Homo sapiens: one gene and its partners. The protein of the gene in region 3 purifies or fractionates together with the protein of the main gene of each other region. This does not show direct contact. Each region holds a gene or a part of one and is shown on either strand. Other genes may lie near its edges.

Region 1 (7,662 bases), on a different chromosome or scaffold from region 3:
TCCTGGCCCCGTTATCAATGTGACACCACTGAATTCCCAGTGATGCAGCAGGCAAGACTCGTCCCCATTTCACAGATGAGAAAACTGAGGCTCAGGGGAAGGAAATAATGAGGTCATCTCACACAGCCAGGGAGGGTCTTTGTCAGGATCCGAACCTGGGGCGTTCAGACCCCTAATGCCCTTCCCCAGCAGGGCCGGAGTCTGGGCTCCCAGGGCCAGATGGGGCCAAGAGAAAAAGTCCTGGGACCTGGCAGCCTCTCTGCACCCTGCTGATATCTGGGAGTTGAAGCCAGCACTGTTGCCGGAAACCCCGGCAGTTCACACTCTCTAGAATTCATCCGACAGGGGCAATTACCCACTTCCAATAATCAATGGGGCAGTGGAACCAGGACAGATGTGCAGAGGGAACCCATTAGCAATCTAAGCGTTCTGGCCCCGCGAGACGTCAGGGAGCGTGTTGGGTGGACGCTCAGGGACAAAGGCACCATCTGCCTGATTTCTCTCGCTGTCTTGGGTCTTCAGCATAAGTCAGGGCTTCTTTTTTTAAAAAAAAAAAAAAAAAAAAAAGAGAAGGCCTTGCTCTGTTGCCCAGGCTGGAGTGGAGTGATGCAATCATAGCTCACTGCAGCCTCAAACTCTTAGGCTCAAGCAATCCTCCCACCTCAGCCTCCCCAGTAGCTGGGACCGTACGTGTGCACCCCAACCCTCGGCTGATTTTTTTTTGTTTTTTGTAGAGATGAGGTCTCACTGTGTTGCCCAGTCTGATCTTGAACTCCTAGGCTCAAGCAATCCTCCCGCTTTAACCTCCCAAAGTGTTGGGATTATGGACGTGAGCCACCATGCCTGGCAAAATCAGGGTTTCTAAACCTCAGCACAGTGTACATGAGGGTGGGGTCATTATCTGGGATGGGGTCATCCTGGCCATTACACAGAGTTGAGCAGCATCTCTGGCTTCCACCTACTCCATACCAGCAGCACCCCCCTGGACATGACACCCAAAAATGTCCCCAGACGTTGCCAAGTGTGCCCAGGGGAGCAAAAGTGACCCCGGCTGAGAACCACAGCAGTACACTCAACGAGTAATACTGGTAACCCGGGTGCTCCAGCCCCAAGAGCAAACGACTGCGCTACAGAAAGAACGAGGGATGGAGAAGCAGGTCCTGCCGCCAGTAGATAATTCGCAGCCCTGCCCCGCGGGACAGCCGGCTTCCTTCTACGCAGTATTTAATTTAAGTCAAGTTTATCATTATGACCAATATTAATATAATCAGAGCCAACGTTTATCGAGCGCGGACGCTGGCCCAGGCCCTGTTCTCAGCACTCTCTGTAAGCTATCACACTGGTGCCTCTAAAGAACCGCAGAGGTGGCTGGGAGTCTTAAACCCATTTCACAGGCCTGGAAACTGAGGCCCGCGGACGGCAATGGAGGTGTCAGAAGTCACGCAACTTTTAATTGTTGGGGAAGGGGTCAAAGTCCACGGTGGCCCTGGATTTCTGTACTGTGCCATGTTAAGATGTTTCAACCCAAGGATGTTAAAATAGGGCAATTTTTTTTTTTTTTTAGACAGAGTCTCACTCTATCGCCCAGGCTGGAGTGCAAGTGGCATGATCTCAGCTCACTGCAACCTCCGCCTCCCAGGTTCAAGCGATTCTCCTGTCTCAGCCTCCCAAGTAGCTGCGATTACAGGTATGCACCACCATGCCCAGATTATTTTTGTATTTTTAGTAGAGGCGGGGTTTCACCATGTTGGCCAGGCTGGTCTCAAACTTCTGACCTTAGGTGATCTGCCTGCCTTGGTCTCCCAAAGTGCTGGGATTACAGGCGTGAGCCATCATGCCCAGCCAAAATTGGGCAATTTTACTTAAAATCTAGATTTCTGCTTTTCCTTGGAAAAACCAACAGATCTGGCCCTGGAGCCATTCAGGGCTTCCTTGGAGGTTGAAGAAGCCTTTTTGGCCCATACGACCCGCTGGAGTGGAGACTCCAGCCCTGACAGGCGTTATGGCTTGAGAATCACACACCCGCCATGGCTTCCTGCCTCGGTTTCTCCCTTTGGACTGGTGAAAGGGGTCCCTGTCCATCCTCCTGCGCAAGGCCCAGCAGCAGGCAGGCAGGCATGGCTGTGTGGTCTTGGGCAAGTTGCTCTCCCTCTCTGGGCCTTGGCCTGACAGATGTTCCAAGAAGCATTCCCAACATTCCAGGTTTTCTGTTGATCCTGATGTTGGCAGCCCAGCTCTGGGGGCTTTCAGAGAACTCTGACCGCACATCTAAAAAATGCAATTTGTTAGACGCGGTGGCTCACGCCTGTAATCCCGGCACTTTGGGAGGCCAAGGCAGGCGGATCACTTGATGTCAGGAGTTTGAGACCAGCCTGGCCAATGGGGTAAAACCCCATCTCTACCAAAAATACAGAAATTAGCCAGATGTGGTGGCGGGTGCCTGTAATCCCAGCTACTCGGGAGGCTGAGGCAGGAGAACCACTTGAACCCGGGAGGCGGAGATTGCAGTGAGCTGAGATCACGCCGTTGCACTCCAGCCTGGCGACAGAGCAAGACTGTCTCAAATAAATAAAATAAAATAAAAAATAAATAAAAAATGCCAATTCGCCAGGTGTGGTGGCTCACACCTGGAATCCCAGCATTTTCCGAGGCCAAGGCAGGCAGATAGCTTGAACCCAGGAGTTTGAGACCAGCCTGAGCAATATGGTGAAACCCATCTCTACAAAAAAAAAATAAATAAATAATAATAATAATAATAATAATAATACAAAAGTCAGCTGGGCGTGCTGGTGGATGCCTATAGTCCCCAGCTACTTGGGAGGCTGAGGTGGGAGGATTGCTTGAGCCCAGGAGTTAAGACACTGCAGTGAGCCATTATGGCATCACTGCACTCCAGCCTGAGCAACAGTGTGAGTCCTGTCACACACACACACACACACACACAATGCGATTCGAACTCCTTGGGGTGGGGGGTCCTGTGTGGTCTTCCCCAGCTAAAGTCAACTCTTCTCTTCTTGTTTCCGCCCCCCTCACCTCCAGCCACAAAGCAGCAGGTGCCACTCTCAGTCTCTGTCCTTGGTGCCCCCCACACCAGTTCATCTGTCTCCACTTATGATAGAGGCAATGTCAAAGCACCCATTTTACAGATCAGGAAACTGAGGCACAGAACAGCTTTATTACTAGCCCAAGCCCCACAGCTGCTTAGATTCTGGCTTCCAAGTTCCTTAGCAGCAGGTTTCCAGCAATCCTGATGGAATGAATGAATTAATGAACTGGTGAATATTCGAATGAATGCATGCATGCTCGCTCGCACACCATGCTTGTCAACCGATCACTTTCCTGAGTGCCCATCAAATGACTGCTGTTAAACCCCCAAATCCCCCCCAAACTCCCCCCTTTGGTGATCACTCGGGCCCACCAGGGGCTCTGGAAGTTGGGAGCCACATGTGGAGTCCCTGGAGTGCCTGGAGCTCCCAAGGCAGCCACGTGTCCTCCCTGTCCACCATCCAGGCCCCCTGTGGTTCAGCTCCCGCCAGTCGCCCAGTCCTGCCGCAGAAGTGGGGCGGCCTTGATTAAGCAGCCAGTGAAGGGGAACGCCCCAGTTTGCAGTGGCTGAGTCATCCTGACATCTCCCTGGTGCTGGACCCCATCGGGGGGCTGAGGGCGGGGTAGCGGGGCGCGGGTGGACACTGGAGAGCCCCTCTTGGGCAGGTCCTTCAACATATCAGTGTAGCTCCCATGTTGTCAAAAATAATAACAAAAACAGAATAGAGGTGGCAGCTACATTCTAGGTGCCGTTCTGAATCTGTGCTTACACACGTTAACTCATTTCTTCCTCCTAACAATCCCTCAAGGTGGGCACTGTTACTCTTCTCCATAGACAGATGAGGAAGACGGAAGCACAGAGAGGTTGAGCAACTTGCCCCAGGTCACACAGCCAACAAGTCGGCAGAGCCGGGATTTGAACCCCATGCAGCCTCAGTCCAGCATCCTTGCTCTTAACCTCTGAGAAAAGGCAGTCAAGAGCCCTGGGGTGTGTGTGTGCGGGGGGTGTCTCTGTAGCGATTCAGGTGGCCCCCGCAGCAGATGGACTGCTGTCCAAACAAACATCCCTGACAATCGGGCAGAGCTCCTTCCAGGCGTTAGGAATCCAGGTTGTGGCAGCCAACAGCTTGTGGGCTGTGTGAAGTGACCTCAGGCCAGTGAAGGCCCCTCCCTGTGCCTCAGTTTCCCTCTCTGCAAAATAGGGCTCAGATCACAGCAACTCCGCTGACAGGGGACGGCAGGTTGGAGGAGACAAGGATGCTACTGACTTGCTTACTTAGCAGAGGGCCTGGCACGGGGCGCCAACTCTAAATAGTCGGAGCAGCTGTTATTATCCCCCCGACATCCCCTCATTTGCTGATCACGGGGGTTAATTATAAGCGGCATTAAATTATACACACACAGACGCGCCAACCTCGCTTCCCCAGAACCCCTGAATTTCCGCAAACTCTCAATTACCCACGTGACAGCGCGACGATGGGCCATCCTCCCAGCCTCTCTCCCCACAGCCTGCCTCATCCGAGGGTCCCAGGCTTCCAGAGCCATGGCTTCTCCGCCCGCCGGATACCCCTCTGGGTGTCCAGGAGCGGAAGGAAGGATGCATGCGACTGACTGCGGACGCGTTGAGAGCCAGGGGAGGCATGTTTACCCACAGCATCTCATGTCAAGGCTCGCCGCGACGCAGACTGCGACTGTACTGATCTTAGAGATGAGAGAACACAGAGAGGTCAGGCAACCCGCCCTAGTTTGCACAGCTCAAGTGAGGAGGGTGGCTCAAGTCAGGGCTCTGACCTGGAACCCAGAGGGGTAACCTCATTCTGTAAGTGAGGAAGCTCCTGCACGGAGAACTGAAAGGGAAGAGGGGAAGTCATCCAGGAAGGAAGGAAGGCAGGCAGGCAGGTGAGATCTGGGAGAAAAAGGGGAATTTTCAGTTCTCCAGGTAGGGGGAACAGGAGACAGCTGGCCCTTCCTATAAGGGGCTTATGGCAAAGATCAAAAACAACTTAAAAGGAGCAAGGCCACCCAGATAACATAAAGAGTACGAGATGAAATCTGTCCCCATGAAACGGGACATTTGTGATCCAGCCCCAGTTACGGCGATGGGGACCGGAGGAGGGAGTCCCCATGATCCAAAAATCCAGGCTCTGAACCCCCAACCAGGGTGGGATCCGCGGGAATCAGAAGGAAACAGGAAGCCGCACAGAAACCTGGGTTTATTTTCAGATGTGGAATATCCCCTCGGCCTCTGCGGGGCGCAGAGGGTGCCTTGATTCCGGGGAACAGAAGAGGGGATTCCACGGCTAGCCCAGAATAGCACCAGCCCCAAGGTCCAGTCTGGCCAGGCCACGATGTTGGGGGACCGGCAGCTCCATGGAGGAGGAGGAGGAGGAAAAAAAAAAAAGAGAGAGACAAAAATAAAGCGATGTGAAAGTGGAGGGCCTGTCCGTGAATCACTCCTACCCGTTAATTTTCGCCTTTGGAGAAGTGTAAGCCAATTGATTTTTCAAATTCCCCACACACAACCCCCTCCCCAGCGCTTCTCAAATATCAGCCAGAGACAAGACAGAAATGGTACGTCGGGTTTTTTTTTTTCTTCCCTTTTTGGTTGAGAGTCTTTTCTTTCCTTAAAGGAAAAGGGGGGGGGGCGGGGGGGAAACCACACACTCCACACTCTTGAACCTCAGGGTTAGAGAGACCCAGGTGTCACCTGTTTCCTAGACATTTTGGGGCTGCCACTCTCTGCGTGAGACAACAGCCACCCTTTCCCTCGATCACATCCCCTACACTTCACTTCCTCTCTCCGTGTCCCCCTTCCTCAATTCAGAATGTCACCTGGTGATAAGATGACATGCATTTGAGCCTCAATCCCCTTCCAGCATCCCCTCTCCTCTGCCCCGCAAGCCACAAGCTGGCAGCTTTCCGATTCCAGAGCAAGGTAAGGTGTGAAAATGACAAAATTCACAGTTTAAAAAGCCCTTGAAACCTTCAAGCCCCGGATACGTGCCTTGGTCCGTGAATCCATGGTGAATTTTTGGTTTTTTTGTTTTGTTTTGTATCAGCTTGCCACACGAATCCTGCGAGGAACAGCAGTTATGTCTTAATCTCCTCTCCTCCTGTCCCCACCGGAGGCTGAGCCACTCTGCCTGGTGAGCGGTTGGAGGGTGGGGCGGCGGCGGGTGGTGGGGGGGAGGGTCTCTCTTCAAATTCCCCTCCCTGGGCATCTTTTGCCGCAGGGAAGGACGGAGGAAGGGCAACCTGCACAGGCTTTGCCCGAGAAGGGTTCTCATCCTCCTTGCAAATTCTAAGAGGACACCCACCCATTGGAAGGTGAGCCAGGAGCCTACCCTGGATGCAGAGGAGAGCTGGGGAGTGCCCCTTTCTGGGACCCCTGTCTCCTTCCAGAAAGTACGAGACCCTCCCAGAAGGGGGCTACAGCGGTCAGCACTGCGCCCGCCAAACCTAAAGCTCATCTCAAGATCTTCCCGTGGCTCCGACCGACTCTGCAAATGGAGCTTAATGGGTAGCAGGGGGAAGGAATTGCTCTCAGCCGAAAAACATTAAGCTTTGTCAATTATCCCCCAAACCCGCTGGGTTTATAAATATCCCTTTTTATTTTTAGGGTTTTCCCTCCCGCTCGCCCCCATCCCGAACTCTCTCCACGCCCCGCTTCTTCCCCCACGCACACGGCGGCTGCACCGTCACAGAAAGCAGGTGAACGCGGGGCCACGGGGCGCTCGGGTAGAAATGCCACGTCGCACCACCAAGTCACACCGTCCCTGCCCGTCCCTCTCCGGCCATCCCACTAACTATTGTATTGGGGCCATGCAGCCGCTGGAATAATCAGCGAAGCCACAGGTCTCCCCATCTTGGCAAGTGGAGGTGTGCGCTGCCCTCAGACATCTGTGAACCGCTGTTCAACGCCAACCCCGAAGGCAGAAGGGGAAACCAAGTCACCTCCCAGAAAGACGTTTGATGAGCAGAGATAGATTTGCCTCCAGACTGGTACCAGGTCTGGGGAAACCCAGGCAGAGCCCCAGGCTCTATGCGACCCAAAGAAGAAAAAAATGGGTGCACAGTGATGGCTCCAGGTCTCCCCACCCAGATGCTACCACGAAATCCCTGGCATCCACGAAGCTTCCCCCTGTTCCATGGTGGAAATTGGGGGAAAATGGACTTGTGTCTCCAAGCAGGGTCCATGGACACTGGACGATGCCTGAAATCCCCTGGGAGGCAGGGAAAAAAGGCGCACTGAACGCTCAACCGGGGTATAAGGAGTGATTTTTTTTTCTCTGCTGGCAGCAGGCAGGAACCTGGGGTTTGAATGTCCCCTTCTCTGTCGCCACCTCACGCAGACTTCAGAGGCTCTCAAGGTTTCCTGGAGAGGGGGAAATCGTCCCCGGAGCTGACCTGCCAACCAGTAGCACCCTCCAGCGCCTCAGCCGGGCCACGCCAAAATGACCTGTCACCCATCTCCCGCGGGGAGTGGGGAGCGGGCCAGTCCACCGCCTCTTGGGACGGCATCTCTGGACGGCCACTGACAGTACCAGTCTCTGTCACCCCCTGGGGGGTTAGGGGCAATGTCATCGGCCAGGGTGGCAGAAATAGAAAAGTGCGTGA
Region 2 (8,091 bases), on a different chromosome or scaffold from region 3:
GGGCATGGTGGCTCATACCTGTAATCCCAGCACTTTGGGGGCCCAAGGCGGGTGGATCATGAGGTCAAGAGATTGAGACCATCCTGCCCAATATGGTGAAATCCCATCTCTACTAAAAATACAAAAATTAGCTGGGCGTGGTGGTGCGCACCTGTAGTCCCAGCTACTCAGGAGGCTGAGGTGGGAGAATTGCTTGAACCCGGGAGGCGGAGGTTACAGTGGGCCGAGATAGTGCCACTGCACTCCAGCCTGGCAACAGAGAGAGACTCTGTCTCAAAAAAACAAACAAAAAAGTGTTTACTTGTGTGATAGGCCTGATGGTAACATACAAGAAAATTACTACCAAACTGTCTCCGAAGTCAATAATTATAAGCACTCTGCCCCTATGCTGGGATCCTTTTGGAAACTGTTCAAAGAGACTGAATCAAAAAGTGATCTAGCCCAGGCGCAGTGGTTCACACCTGTAATCCCAGCACTTTGGGAAGTCAAGGCAGGCGGATCACCTGAGGTCAGGAGTTCAAGACCAGCCTGGCTAACATGGCGAAATGTTGTCTCTACTTAAAATACAAAAATTAGCCGGGTGTGGTAGTGTATGCCTCTAATCCCAGCTACTCGGGAGGCTGACGCAGGAGAATCACCTGAAACTGGGAGGTAGAGGCTGCAGTGAGCTGAGATCGTGCCACTGCACTCCAGCCTGGACAACAGAACAACACTGTGTCAAAATAAATAAGTAAATAAAAGGGGATTTAATTTTAAAAATTAAATAATATATAAAAATAAAAAGTGATCTGAGAAAGACATATTGTAACATATTGGGCTCATATCCGGCCCAGCAGCACAGTTCTAGAAATTTAAGACAAATTCTGAGGTTGGTATAGAAATACTTACCAGTCAAAAGCACAGCCTAAGGCCTTCACACACCATAAAATCAGTGAAACTAATTGCGGTTCTTCAGCATCTGCGGAGCACTGGCTACCAGTAAGGAGAAAGTTGGGGATGCAGATAATCAGTGCACCCTGAGGTGACAGTTAATTCCACTAGCATACCATTTCACAGGAGATGTTATGGCATTCTACTTCATCCCCCTACTCTGAGAATGCTGAAACTGGCTGGAAATTTCAACAGTTAGCCAAATGTCAAATGTCCTTTGAAGAACTTTAATAAAATCTGGATCCTCCAAAATCCCCTGCGTAGAAAGATCTTGGAACTCCTCTGAGCCAACATACACAGACCCAATCACATGTTATCCACACATTTTCCAAGTAGACAAATATTCTCTGAAACATTTTCTGATAACTTCTTTCACAAAGACAAAAAATATGTTAAGGTGCATTCCACCTAGGTCAGAATAATACACTTTCTGATCTGAAGCACAGAACAGCAAGTGGGATTTCAAAAAAGAGCGTACCCTGACCAACTTTTATGCTCTGTTGAAGGCAGAGGCTGGAAGCTTAAAGACAGGCTTTTAAAAGCCAGCTAAGGTACAGTCTGCATTTCTCAGAAAAGTTGCCTATGGCTAAAACAGAGCACAAAATGAGAGATAAAAAAGCAAAACCACAAACCCCTGTACCGTCTGACCCGGGAGTCCTCACTTAACAGATGAGAAAATTACCAGGGAAAGTAACTTGCCCTGGGCTGCAGTTTATTTGGCGTCAAAGCTGTAAGCAGATTCCTGGTCTCCCAGGTCGGAATTCAGTGTAGCTTCCCCATCCACCTAACTGCCACCCCACGGAAGATGCTGTATAAAACTCTTCACTCTTCACTGAGGCTGTTAACATAAGGGTCCAATTATCATTCAAAGATCAGCCTGTTAGATAATAGCTCGAAAATTCCATCCATTTTACAGCAGTTACCAGAGACATCTAATCTTCGAGGAAAAAAAAGCAAAAAGGAAAAGGGGGAAATCCTAATTTTGACCTGACCCCTAAGGTCAAACTAAAGGATTGAATACAGACCAGCAGACCGTATTGGTATCCGCAACCACAAAAACAGACAATAATCCCACCCACAAGCAGAGGAAGACGGCCGCTCCTCGGCACCGCCCCCCAACTCACTAAATTCCACTCCCATTCCGGCGTCCAGAGGACAGTGCACCTCCCGCCGTAGCCTGAGAGGGATCGGCCCGATTGGCCACGCTCCTTCAAACCACCACTTTCCCCCGAAAAAGGGACGAAAGCCTCAGGTCCCCAAACGAGCGCTCCCTCGCCCAGAGACCCCGGCTTGCACACCCCGCCCTGTTCCCCGCGGCGCGGGAGGAGAGGCCGCCCCACACAGGAAGTGTGTCCTGCGCCGGGACCTTGCGCCCAACCCGCCGGTACCTGCCCTCCGCCCCCAACAGGCGAGAAGCAGCCGCGTCCACATGGCTTCAGGTGTTCACATGGCAGTAAACGGGCCCCTGCTCTCCTGGGCGCCCCAGCGCGGCGCCCTCCCGCCCACATCCCGGCCCAGCCCCGCTGGCCTCGCCTCCAGCCCGTAGCCAAGAGGCGAGCGCGGCCGGTGCCCCCGGGGCTGCCAGGGGCCCCGAAGCAGGCGGCGCTGACTCCCGGACGCCGCCCGCTCACACCCGCCGCCTTTGCACCCAAGGCCTCGCGCGACCAGCAGGTAGACCTTCCCTCCGCACCCTCGGGCCAGCACCGGCACCCAAGCCCCGCCGGAACCCCGGGCCGGCCCAAGACACCTTAGCCCTCTGATGCCAGGCCTGGCCCGGGCCCCTGCCCGCACTCTTGGGTCGGGCCGGGCAGCAACACTCCCCTCAGCACCCCAAGCCCTGACTCGGAGTCCAGGAGGCTCCGCACTCCCAGGTTGGGTCCGGCCGGGACCTCTGCTCCCAGCCCCCGAGGCCGGACACCCCGGCCCGGCCCCAGTCCTTCAGGCCCAACCCTCTCCCTGCCCCTCAGGCCCGGGAGGCGGTTACCTGCAGGAGCCCCCCGCCCAGTCCCTCGGCCTCCGCCGGGGGCGGGCGGGGAGGGAGCGGTGGCGACGGCGGGCGGCGCTGCGCGGGGTGGGGGTGGGGGTGGCTCCGCCGCCTCCAGCTCGGGCGCCCGGGCCGGCGGCGGGGCGGGCCGGGGCCGCGGCCCCTCGAGGCTCGCTCCGGCCCGCGCGCTCGCTCCCCGGTCAGGCGCGCCTCAGGGCGGGCTCCCCTGGCGGAGGCCGCGGCCGCCTCGCAGGGGCCGAAAGCGGCTGGGCTCGGGGTTTTTTCTCTCCATTCTCCCAACACACAGGAAATAACAGAGCGTCAGGTGACGGCGCGCGGCCAATGGGGAGGCTCCGGGCCGCGGCGCGCGGGCGGGCGGGAGGGCGCGCGGCGGGGCGGGGCGCGCGGCGGGGGCGGGGCGCTGGGGGCGGGGCCGGGCGCGCGCGTGCCCACCCGCGTGCGGCGGCGTCGAGGCTGGCGCGCGCCGGGTAGGGATCGCGAAGACCCCCACCTCGCGGCAGGGTCGCACGGGGTTCTCCTCTGCGGCCGCTGGGCGCCGCGCGCCACCCGCCCAGTGCCATCTTGGCCTGCGCCTCAGGGCCGTCTTGGGGGTGGACGCGAGCCAACTTTCTGGGGGAGTTGGTGGCCCGGAATCTCTCTGGGATTTCTGGAGTTCCCTGGAGCCTCCAACTCCAGAATCGCGCCTCTTGCGGCCCGGGAGGTCCGCGGGCGAGGACCCGGTCTCCTCTCGGTGACCTGTTTAGTGGGGTCGGGCGTGGGGGCGGCTCCTGCCCGCCAAGAGCCCTCTGGGCCGGGGGCAGCCCAAGACCTAGCTGGTCCCGCCTGGGTCCCTGGCAGCCCCCGCCCATGGGTTCCAGGTGTCCGTGGAGGAACGACTTGGGTCCTCTCAGAGCCTCAGTTTCCACCGCGGAAAACGCGAGGAGGGAGGCCCACCTACCTCACCTGTAAAACGGACGCTCCAGCTGCCTTCTGCTGCGGCATTAAGAAGCTGCAATGCCAGGCTGACTGCGCCCAGGGTCCCGAATTAATTTGCCGATAAGGCGGAGGATTTGCGGTGCCAAGGCCTCAGCTTGTTCCCAGCCTTCCTTTGCAAACCTGATGTTTCTAAAGCAAAGGAAGGGCTTGACTTCTTTATAAAGAAAATCGCAATTGTAGAGCAACTAATATGTAGATGTTGGTGCCCCCACGGCCATCAAAAGTGACAAGGCCAGCAAGAGTAGGATGCGTTGAGAATTTGTGATCCTGCCCCTGACCTTTGACCTGGCCAAATTCTCCTCCCACTTTGGGCCTCAGTTTCCTGTGGGTGAGGAGAGTTTGGATTAGATGTCCCTAATGTTGGCTAAAATTGCCGATTCTAAATTAGGCTCCCATCTGTCCTAGATGTTAGGGGAGTATGTGGCTTCCTCTCCTGAAGCAACCCAACTTAAAAGTTGGGATTGGAAAAGTGCTTCCGGCAGCAGGTGGGGATTGTCAGGAACCAGGTGTGGTCTGGAACCCAGATTTCCATATATTTGAGGTACACAGCTTCCCGGGGCCTGCTTTTACTTTTTGACCTTTCACCCCACCTAGCCATTGCCTTTTCTCAGGCTACCCAAGGAGGGTCTCAGGGTCCCAGGCAGAGCCCCAGGTGGTCCTGGGCCCCTTGGCAGGAGCATGTACTTGGGGAAGGCAGTGATTTCTCCTGGCTTCTGTCCAATCTCACAAAGTGGGGGCTGGCTCCAAAGCAGGTCAGGACTATTCCTGGGGACTTGATTCCCCAACACCTCCTGCATGCCAGGCTCTTCCGGGGCAGAGCTGAACAAGCCACGGGGCCCTGCCCTCTGATTATTCCCATTGTTCTTCTGAGTTTCATTTTCAAATTCTCAGGCCTCAAGACTTTTAAAAGACCAGTACCTGGCTTCTCCTGGGATCAGGGCTGTAAAGGGAAAGCTGGAAGAGGCACTCAGCACAAATCAATGTTTTCTGGACAAAAATAGGAGAATGCAGGGCCTCCTGAAGACTGGTGTTGGGGGCACCCTTAATTTCTTGAGAGAATTCATGAAGAAAGATGAATCCTTTTTCCTTAGAGTCCCCTGCCCCATCATTCTTCCATTCTTTCCCTTCTTCATAACCTCACTTGCGTCTCAGATGCAGGGCCCGGGGGATGCTGACAATCTGTCGCAGAGCCTCATTCAAAAGGGAAAGAATAAAGAATGCAGACAGATAACTGGAGTCCAGGCGCCTGTCAGCTCCTGCCTCTTATAACCATGCAGCCCCCTCCCCGCCCTTTCAGACCCTGCCAGAACATTGCCCCAATGCCCTCCACCTGGAAACTTCCCCAGTCCTTGGACCAGGCCAGCTGGGCCTCTTTATCCCTGAAAGCCTGCCACTTTCTCTTTTGGTTCCATCTGGAAAAAGAACGTGTATGGGCATCATAGCCAACAGGAAGATGTGGGTTACTCTTGGACTGCGTGGCCTTGGACAAGTCACTTCCCCCTTTGGTTTCCTCAGCTATAAAATGGAGATAATATTATCTCACTGGGCCGGGTGTGGTGGCTCACACCTGTAATCCCAGCACTTTGGGAAGCCGAGGTGTGAGGATTGCTTGAGGCCAGGAGTTCAAGACCAACCTGCGCAACACAGTGAGACTCCCCCTCATCTCTATTTATTTAAAAGAAAAAAATTTTTTTTTAATTACCTCACTCATAAGGTGTTGTGGGACTCTCAAGAGAGCTGCATAGGCCAGGCACAGTGGCTTACGCCTGTAATCCCAGCACTTGGGAGGCCAAGGGGGGTGTATCACCTGAGGTCAGGAGTTCAAGACCACCCTGACCAACATGGTGAAACCCTGTCTCTACTAAAAATACAAAAATTAGCTGGGCGTGGTGGCGGGCGCCTGTAATCCCAGCTACTTGGGAGGCTGAGGCAGGAGAATCGCCTGAACCCTGGAGGCAAAGGTTGCAGTTAGCTGAGATTGTGCTGTTGCACTCCAGCCTGGGCGACAAGAGCAAAACTCCGTCTCAAAAAAAAAAAAAAAAAAAAAAAAAAAATTCAGTGCAGTACCAGGCACTGTTAACACTAGCTGCATGTTCTATGACATGGACACAAAAGGACATGAGTAGACTGAGGCTCAAACAGGTTAAGTTGCTGCCCAAGATTGCACAGTGGCAGGCACTCAATAACTGAGCGCCCCTTCCTCTGAAATCACATTAGTGTTTTCTGTTGTTCTCTCACTGTCTCAAATGCATGGATCCTGTTTTTCCTACCACACTCGGAGCTCTTTAAGGAAAGAACAGTAAAAAAAAAAACAAACAAAAAAACAAAAACAGTAGACTAGTTTTTTTCCCCCTCCCTCCTAACCCAGTCCACTCAAAAATTACTTATTGAACTGAATCAGTGTATCAATTCTAGAAACAAAATTAATCCTTTCCCTCCTCCTCTGGCTCAAAGACGGCTTTTGGAAACACTGTATCACTCCTTTTATTACAAACTCCTCTGCCCTCCTCCAGGCGCCTGGGCCACTCCAGGATTACAAATGGAGCCTTCTGCCTCTAGGTCACTGATTCTACTACCATCTGTCAGCGTGGATTGATTGAGGAGACTGGCCCTGCTCGGCAGATCAGTGACTTGTGCGAAGTGAGCCAGGGTGTCGGTGCCTTCAGAGCAGGCGGATGTCCTTCCTCACTTGCCAGCTCTCGTGAGCAGACACACAGCCCTCACCTTTATCCTTCACCAAGCTCCAGCTCTCCTTCCTCTTGGGAGGCGCCGCCTGCTAACTCAGTCACACCAAGAGGGAGGCCTGGAATTCCTGCTCACAAGCTCGGGGCTTCATCTGCAGTCTGCCAGGAGGCAACTTACAAAAGCCTCTGGCTAACAGAGCGGGAAACTCCCCACAGCCTCCTGCTGTGCCTGTCCCCAAGCCACGCACTGTCCCCTTGCAAAGCACAAGGATACTGAGAGTGCACAAACAGCAGGGGTGGAGAGCCTCTGTGGGCACGCCCTCATTCTGTGCCCTCATTCCACAGGAGCCCCTGCTTTGTGCAAGTCTCTGAGCCCGCATGGAGGGAGCATGGGGGCTCAGAACAGTTCTTTCTGGGGCAAGGTCAGGGGAGGCTCTAAAGTTATGGTGGTGGGGAGGGCCTTAAAACAGAGGACCAGAGAATACCAAGACTTAGGGGTGTGGGGGAGAGCCACCTGCTGTGCCCAGGAGGACTGTGCCCAGTGCAGGGGAAAAAGATGAAGCTGCGGAGTTGGGCAAGGGTGGGATCCTGCAGGGCCTTAGAGCATTGACATGTTTGGCATGGATTTGTTTCACAGGGTCCCACAGAAACTTCTGCTCTCCAGGTTTGCCCCTCCACTCTGCCCTCCAGGATAGAAGTGTGGCATCCTAATCTGGGATGCATCCATCTCTCCCCCTGGACTGTGAGCATATGCAGGGCAGAGACACCTCTGCTTCTCTTGGGTCTCCGGCATCCTGTGCAGGGTAGGGCACCATGTCCATTAAAATGATGTTAATGAGGATGATACAGCCCAGAGGAATCCAGGCTTACTATGAACCAGGCACTATGCAGATTTCCCTTTATCATCCCAGTTCTTCTTATTTGCAGCAGTCTAATGAGTTTGGTACTGTTATCACCCCTATTTTACAGATGGGGCCACTGAGGTGCAAAGAGTTTAACTTATCCCAAGTCACACAGTTTGGAAGAGGCTGAGCTGGTATTTGAACCCAGGTTTTCAGAGGCTGCACTCTTAACCACCAAGCTTCCCAGCACTCAGCAAACACTGGAAAGACAGAGATGGACCTAGACAGTCAGTAGGACCAAAAGTCTGCAGGCCGATAGGGAAAGAATGTAAGAGGACGGCATGGGCAGCGCCAGCCCCTCCAGCAGTCATATATTAAGCCCTGGACACTGGGCAGCTCGGGCAGGTCGGGGGGCCTCAGACTCTCGGACCCCATGCCTGGAAGACCACGGTCTGCCCAACAAGCAGCAGCTGCTGTGAATCGACTTACACATCTTCCCCACAGGTGAGCAGAGAGCTAACACCTGAGGATAGGCCAAGAAACGGGAAGCCCGTGCAACCTGAGCGCACAGATCACCCCCACCTGCCCGGCACTCACTGTCCCCAGTGGCTGGACTCTCATCGGGCCAGTCACTGAGCTGGCGCCAGCCTGGTCT
Region 3 (7,761 bases):
TAGGACAACTTGTTCTACTGGAATTAATTACCATCAACTCAAGCAAGAAATTCTTCCCTATGAAAGAAGCACATGAAAGAAGATACACAAATGGTCAATACGCATATGATGCTCAACATCGTTAGCCATTAGAGAAATGCAGATCGAAACCACAATGAGATATCATTTCACACCCACTAAATGGTTATAATCAAAGACACAGGCCAGGCGTGGTGGCTCCCGCCTGTAATCCCAGCACTTTGGGAGGCCGAGGTGGGCAGATCACCTGAGGTCAGGAGTTCAAGACCAGCCTGGCCAACATGGTGAAACCTCGTCTCTACTAAAAATACAAAAATTAGCCAGGCGTGGTGGCAGGCACCTGTAATCCCAGCTACTCAGGAGGCTGAGGTAAGAGAATTGCTTGAACCCGGGAGGCAGGGAGGTTGCAGTGAGCTGTGATCGCACCATTGCACTCCAGCCTGGGTGACAAGAGCAAAATTCCATCTCAAAAAAAAAAAAAAAAAAAAAGACAAGTACAAGTGTTGTTGAGACCGTGGAGAACTATGAACCTTCATACACTGCTGGTGGGAATGTAAAATGGTGCAGCCATTGTGGGGAAACAGGTTGGCTATTCTTCAAAACGTTTATAACATAGGTGCCATAGGACGCAGCAATTCCAACTCCTAGGTATATATCCAAAAAAAGGAAAAGGTACATCCACACAAAACCTTGCACATGAATGTTCATAACATCATTCATGATAGCCAAAAAGTATAAGCAATCCAAATGTCCATCAACTGATGAATGGACACAATGGAATATTACATATACAGCCACAAAAAGGAATGAAGTACTGATATACCTTACACCGTAAATGAACCATGAAAGAAGCCAATTATAAATAAATAACAAAGCACCTCAAATTATATGATTCCATTTATACAAAATGTCCAGAAGAGGCAAATCCATAGAGACATAAAGTGGATTCGTGGCTGAAAGGGACTGGAGGGCAGTCTAACTGGGGTTGGGGAGTGACTGATAATGGGTCCAGCGTTTCTTTTTTGGGGGTGATGAAAATGTTCTGGAAATAGCTAGTTGTGATGTTTGCACTACTCTGTGAATATACTAAAAAACACTGAATTGTACACACCAAATGGGCAAATTGTATGGCATTATATCTCAATAAAGCTGTTTTTTTTGTTTCGTTTTTTGTTTTTTGTTTTGTTTTGTTTTTTGAGACGGAGTCTCCCTGTCACCCAGGTTGGAGTGCAGTGGCACGTCTCGGCTCACTGCAGGCTCCGCCTCCCAGGTTCACGCCATTCTCCTGTCTCAACCTCCCGCGTAGTTGGGATTACAGGCGCCCGCCACCTCGCCCGGCTAATTTTTTGTATTTTTAGTAGAGACCGGGTTTCACCGTGTTAGCCAGGATGGTCTCGATCTCCTGACCTCGTGATCCGCCCGCCTCGGCCTCCCAAAGTGCTGGGATTACAGGCGTGAGCCACCGCGCCCGGCCTGTTGTTTTTTTTTTTTAAAGTAACTAAAATGGTAGTAAGAATGACCATTTCTAAGCGCTTGCTAGTGCCACATACTATGCTGAACAGCTTTTGTATATTCATTGTCTGGAACTTCAAAAAAGTCAAGAGTCTACAAAATATTCGTAATGACCCTAGGCCTTGGGGCACATAGCAGGGGCTCAACAAATAGCTCTCTCTGCCTGATCTAGTGTTCGCGAAGGGAAGTGCTGGCACAGACCAGGGTTTGTAACAAAAGCCTTGGCGAGGAGTAGCCTGGTGCTGGACGAAGAGAGGCCTGTTAACCCCGAACCTAAACTGGAGGGAAACGGGAGAGCAGTGCTGTGATCCTGAGGCAGAGCTGAGAGAAGGAGTTCTGGGCTTGATATAGGGCCTGGTATAAAGCAGAGTGACGGTCCTGGACTACCTCCTGCCCACGAGAGGTGTCGTGTTGTGTTTTGTTTTGTGATGGGATCTCTCTCTGTCTCCCAGGCTGCAGTGCAATGGCACGATCATAGCTCACAGCAGCCCCAAACTCCTGGGCTCAAGCGATCCTCCCGCCTCGTTCTCTCAAAGTGCTGGGACTACAGGCGTGAGCCACCACGCCCAGCCCCAAGAGAGGTTTTTGTATGGCAGGAAAGGAAGGGCAGTGGTAGTTGCGCACACAGACTCTGGAGTTGGATTAAACAATCTGACTCCATTGTTTAAACACGTTTCTTAGCCGCAGTTGCTTGTTACCTTACTGATAAAATGAGGGTAGTGATAGTACCTACCTCACAAGACTGCTGTACAATTAAATGAGTTCACTACAATATGGAAAGTACTTAGAACTACACCTACACATTGTTAACAGCTCATTGTATGTTTGGGGCTGCTAGCCTCTTCATCATTGTTCTGTGTGAGAAGCACCATCTGACTAGATTCCCAAGGGAGCGGAGGGAAGGAACAGGAAAGGGCGAAGAGAGGCAGGCACGAACATCCACTCTTGGGGGTCCAGTTGTGCAACGTGGCCTCCACTTACACTGATTATTTTACACTGATTTTGCGTGTGTCCATGCGCTGGGAGGAAAGGGAGGACGTGGTCTGCCCCAACCCCGCTGCTCAAGGTCCTCCAAGGGTCCAGTCCCCGGCTGGCAGCCTAGGGCACGTGAGGGCCGGGAGGCTCACCCGCGGCGGAGGGTCTGGGGTCCGGGAGGATCTGGGCAGCGGAAGAAGGGAGGAGCGCGGCTGCACGGGGCGGAGCTAGGGGAGGTCCGGCAGGAGGGAAAGGCCTGTCCGGAGAGAGGGACGCGCATCCGCTGAGGCCGCGCCGGGCGCCAAGGGCGCGGTACCTGGAGTCGAACTTCTGGCCGTCGGGGAACGTCCCCACGTAGTGGTAGCGCACGAAGTCGCCGCTGCGCACGGTGCGCGGGCACTCGTCGGGCACGAAGCGCCGCTCGATCTGCAGCTCCGCGTCGGAGCCCAGGCCCGCCACGGGCGCTGCCTGCCCGGTCACCCAGAGCAGCAGCAGGAGCAGCGGTGGCGGCGGGGGCCTCCAGCCCCGGAACGCCATCGGGGCGGCGAGAAGAGTGGCGCGGACGCAGCGCGGCGCTCGGGCGGCACGGGTCGGCCTGGGCGTTCGGCTGCGTTTGCAAACGTGGACCGGGTCTCCTGGCCCTACCCGGGCTGCAGCCGCCACCCCGTCTCCCCGGCCGCCCGCCCTCCCGGCCGCAGCTCCAGGGGAGGAGCCCAGCCTGGCCGCGCGCCGAGGGCGGGCCTGCTGCGCCCTGCCCCGCCCGGCATTGGGAATGTGCGTGCCGCAGCGGGGAGGGGGGCTGGGAACTCCAGTGGGGACCAAGTCTGGGCCTAGAGAGGGCGTGTCCCCGAGCGAGACACTGTGATCTCCGGACAAGGCTTTGGCCCAAAGTCGGAAGAGAAAAGCGCGTACTGCCCAAGCCCACCCGCTGGTCTCCGCCCGTCCCTGGAGACACCGGGTTTGGTGCCGTGAGGGGCTCCTACGTGGCCGTGGATCCAATTTTCCCTTGCTGCTTTGGAGAGGGAGGGAAAATTAGATTTTAATTTTTTAAGCTTAGTTACAAGGGTATGGTCTACCTTGAAAGAGACCGAAACCATCCTTCAGGACTTTTTTTTTTTTTTTTTAATACTGCTTAAAGGAAAAGGAAGGCCGGGCGCCGTGGCTCACGCCTGTAATCCCAACGCTTTGGGAGGCCAAGGCAGGCGGATCACGAGGTCAGGAGATGGAGACCATCCTGGCCAACATGATGAAACCCCGTCTCTACTAAAAATACAAAAAAATTAGCCAGGCTTGGTGGCGCGTGCCTGTAGTCCCAGCTACTCGGGAGGCTGAGGTAGGAGAATCGCTGGAACCCGGGAGGCGGAGGTTGCAGCGAGCCGAGATCGCGCCACTGCACACCAGCCCTGGCGACAGTACGAGACACTGTCTCCAAAAAAAGAAAAGGGAGGCATGTATTGCGAGAGGCTCCCGTGACACTTGTCTAGGCAAAAGTTTTAAGGCACCGTGAGGGTCCTCCAAGCCATCAGCGGCCGCACTGTGAGCTGATACTTGCAGACATCCTACAAGCTCCCATATACGAGCCTATGCCAGGGAGGACTTCATCATAGAGACCCAGAAGCCACAGGAATCCATTAGAGTAATCAGATGCACTTGGAATTGGAATTGGGTGTTATAATTTATTAAAATTTTGGAATAATGAAAGCAAATCACCAACTCTTTCTCAACTCGTTTTGGAAGCAAACACAATTCTGATACCAAAACCTGGCAAAGAGAGCAACAAAAAAGAAAAATAAAACTGAAAAAACAGGGCACGATCTAATTTATAAATATAAATGCAAAAATACTGAATAAAACGTAATAAAATCGGATTCAACCGCATATTAGGCCAGGCGCAGTGGCTCACACCTGTAACCCTAGCACTTTGGGAGGCCGAGGTGGTTGGATCACCTGAAGTCAGGAGTTCAAGACCAGCCTGTCCAACATGGTGAAACCCTGGCTCTACTAAAAATACAAAAATTAGCAGGGTGTGGTGGCACGGCCTGTAGTCCCAGCTACTTGGGAGGCTGAGGCAGAAAAATTGCTGGAACCTGGGAGTCGAAGGTTGCAATGAGCCGAGATTGTGCCACTAAATTGCACCACTGCACTCCAGCCCAGGCGACAGAGTGAGACTCTGCCTCAAAAAAAAAATAAATAAAAAATTTAAAAAACGGTATGTTAAAGGAAAAATATACCATTACATGGGCTACCTAGGTGAGCTTCTGTAAATTAACAAAATGTCAGTGTTCTCTGTAAGATGAAGATAAAACAATCATTATAAGATTACTATAATCTTAGGTTTCAGGGATCGAATGAGAAACTACATGAATAACAAGAAAAATGTTCATTGTTCATCTTAGAGCTTATTCTAGAAATAGAACACCTATTAATAAAATTATAGGACAGAAGAAGGGAAAAAAAGCTCTAAGATCATGTGGCCATAGACTCAAAACGGCATGAGATAAAATTCAACATCTACCTCTGATTTTGAAAACAAACAGAGGGCCTGGTGGCTCACTTCTGTAATCCTGGCACTTTAGAAGGCCGAGGCAGGAGTATCACTTGAGCCCAGGAGTTTGAGACCAGCCTGGGCAACATGGCAAAACCCCACCTCTACGAAAAAATACAAAAATTACTCACCCCTGTAATCCCAGCACTTTGGGAGGCCAAGGGGGGCAGATTGCTTGATCTCAGGAGTTTGAGACCAGCCTGGGCAACCTGGTGAAACCCCGTCTCTACTAAAAGTACAAAAATTAGCTAGGTGTGGTGTTGCATGCCTATAATCCCAGCTACTCCGGTGGCTGAGGCAGGAGAATCGCTTGAACCCCAGAGGCAGAGGTTGCACTGAGCCAAGATCGCACAATTGCACTCCAGCCTGGGTGACAGAGCAAAACTCTATCTCAAAAAAAAAAAAAAAAAAAAAAGAAAAAACTTTCTGATTGTAGTCTATTAAGTCTATTAATGGCACTGACCACCAAAAAGTACTTTTGCATGTCATCTTTGTGTTGTCAAACAATACCTTGATTTTGAAGTATATAATCATTGATAATAAAAATTGTTATACATTTTATTGGCATGAATTCAGACATTCAGTTCATTCACTACACATATACTTTGGTCCAGTCTTTGCTTCACTTATGTCTCCGTGGCTTCAGGCAAGTCAGGTAACTTCTTACTTCCACCCTTGACTGTAAAACAGATGATACTTATCTTGCCTACTGACCTCTTACGGCAATTTGGGGAAATATCTTGGTGCTGAATTAGTTTCTAGGCTCAGACGCTAAACATACAATACATATTAATTGGTAAAGACTTGGGATTTGAAACTTGATCTTTTGAACTAGATGCCAAGAAGTCCAATCTTCATGACAACTCTGTATAAGGTCATAGGTGTAATCACTACTTTACAGAAAAAATAAACTCCAGCCTGGGCAACTGAGTGATACCCTGTCTCAAAAAGAAAAACAAAAACCAAACAAAAATTAGCCAGATGTGGTGGTGTGTGCCTGTAGTCCCAGCTATTTGGGAAGCTGATGTTGGAGGATCGCTTGAGCCCTGGATGTTGAGGCTGCAGTGAGCCATGATTTCACCACTGCACAATTGGCCTGGGTGACAGAGAGAGACTTTGTCTCAAAAAAAAAAAAAAAAAAAAAAAAAAAAGGTAGAGCAGGGCGGCCTGCACCTGTAGTCCCCGTTCAGCTACTTCGGAGGCTGAGGTGGAAGATCATCTTCAACCTAGAAGATGGAGGCTGCAATGAATTGTGATCACACCACTGCACTCCAGCCTAGGTGACAGAGTGAGAGCCTGTCTAAAAATATATATAAAATAAAATAAAAATGAATGTCTGCTCGTGGTGGCAGGATCTAGGAGCCTGTAGTCCTAACTACTTGAGAGCCTGAGGTGGGAGGATCTCTTGAGCCCAGAAGTTCAAGTCCAGCCTGGGCAACATACCACGACTCTGTCTCAAAAAAGAAAAAAAAAATCTTGCTATTAAAAAATGTCACAAATTTTTTAAAGACAAATGATAAATTAAAAAAATACTTGGCCAGGCGCTGTGGCTCACGCCTGTAATCCCAACACTTTGGGAGGCCGAGGCGGGCGGATCGCGAGGACAGGAGATCGAGACCATCCTGGCTAACACGGTGAAACCCCATCTCTACTAAAAATACAAAAATTAGCCGGGCGTGGTAGCGGGCGCCTGTAGTCCCAGCTACTCAGGAGGCTGAGGCAGGAGAATGGCGTGAACCCGGGAAGGGGAGCTTGCAGTGAGTTGAGATCGCACCACTGCACTCCAGCCTGGCGACAGAGCAAGACTCCATCTCAAAAAAAAAAAAAAAAAAAAAAAAAAAACAACTTACGGCCAGGCATGGTGGCTCACGCCTGTAATCCCAGCACTTTGAGAGGCTGAGGCGGGTGGATCATGAGGTCAGGAGTTCAAGACCAGCCTGGCCAAGATGGTGAAACCCCGTCTCTACTAAAAATACAAAAATTAGCTGGGCGTGGTGGCAGGCATCTGTAATCCCAGCTACTCGGGAGGCTGAGGCAGGAGAATCACTTGAACCCCAGGGACGGAGGTTGCAGTGAGCCCAGATCACACCACTGCACTCCAGCCTGGGCAACAGAGTGAGACTCTGTCTCAAAACAAACAAACAAAAAAACCCTTACAACTATATGACAAAACAAATGTGTAAGCATAAGTGAACACCCCATCTGTGTTGGCCTGAAATTCTTTGAGGCTCCTCCCATTTAGAAGTGGAGTTTATGATTATCCTGTTGAATCTGGATAGGCCCGCAGCTGTGCTGACCAATAGAATACAGTCTAACTGGTGGGCCGTGACTTCTGGGCTAGATTATAAAAGGCCATGTTGTTTCCACCTGGTTCACTGGAACACTTGCCCCTTAAGTCCTGATCCCTGTAAGAAGTCCCACTACCTAGAGTCCTCCATGCTGGGGAGGTCACAGGCAGACTCTGTGATTGACATTCACACCTGAGCCCATACCTCAGCCATCCCAGCATAGGCAGCAAAAATGTGAGTAAAGCAGCCCCTGGATTAGCCATCTGCCATATGTTCAAGTCAGCCCAGCCATTTGAGCAGTAAAAATAATGTAGCAGACAAAGCCATGACTGCTATATCCTGCCAAAATTCCTGACCCACAGAATTTGTAAGCATATTAGATTGTTGTTTTTAAACTCTGGGGTGGTATATTATGCAGCAGTA

What was found. The genes of interacting proteins can lie anywhere in the genome.
Region 1: the proteins of FKBP9 (region 3) and PTPRS purify together in Homo sapiens (affinity purification with mass spectrometry; 2 studies listed by BioGRID and IntAct, with this or other methods). This does not show direct contact.
Region 2: the proteins of FKBP9 (region 3) and TCF20 purify together in Homo sapiens (co-immunoprecipitation; 3 studies listed by BioGRID and IntAct, with this or other methods). This does not show direct contact.

What each region holds. Positions count from the first base shown.
Region 1 is NC_000019.10:5,330,584-5,338,245, forward strand, and holds part of PTPRS (receptor-type tyrosine-protein phosphatase S isoform 1 precursor), read right to left. Parts: intron 7,484-7,662; exon of another isoform or gene 6,874-7,483; intron 6,757-6,873; exon of another isoform or gene 6,665-6,756; intron 6,373-6,664; exon of another isoform or gene 6,279-6,372; intron 6,192-6,278; exon of another isoform or gene 6,105-6,191; intron 5,981-6,104; exon of another isoform or gene 5,912-5,980; intron 1-5,911. UniProt on the Homo sapiens protein: Cell surface receptor that binds to glycosaminoglycans, including chondroitin sulfate proteoglycans and heparan sulfate proteoglycan.
Region 2 is NC_000022.11:42,267,425-42,275,515, forward strand, and holds the start of TCF20 (transcription factor 20), read right to left. Parts: upstream 3,230-8,091; 5' UTR 2,915-3,229; exon of another isoform or gene 889-2,914; intron 1-888. UniProt on the Homo sapiens protein: Transcriptional activator that binds to the regulatory region of MMP3 and thereby controls stromelysin expression. It stimulates the activity of various transcriptional activators such as JUN, SP1, PAX6 and ETS1, suggesting a function as a coactivator.
Region 3 is NC_000007.14:32,952,855-32,960,615, reverse strand, and holds the start of FKBP9 (peptidyl-prolyl cis-trans isomerase FKBP9 isoform 1 precursor), read right to left. Parts: upstream 3,177-7,761; 5' UTR 3,043-3,176; coding exon 2,822-3,042; intron 1-2,821. UniProt on the Homo sapiens protein: PPIases accelerate the folding of proteins during protein synthesis.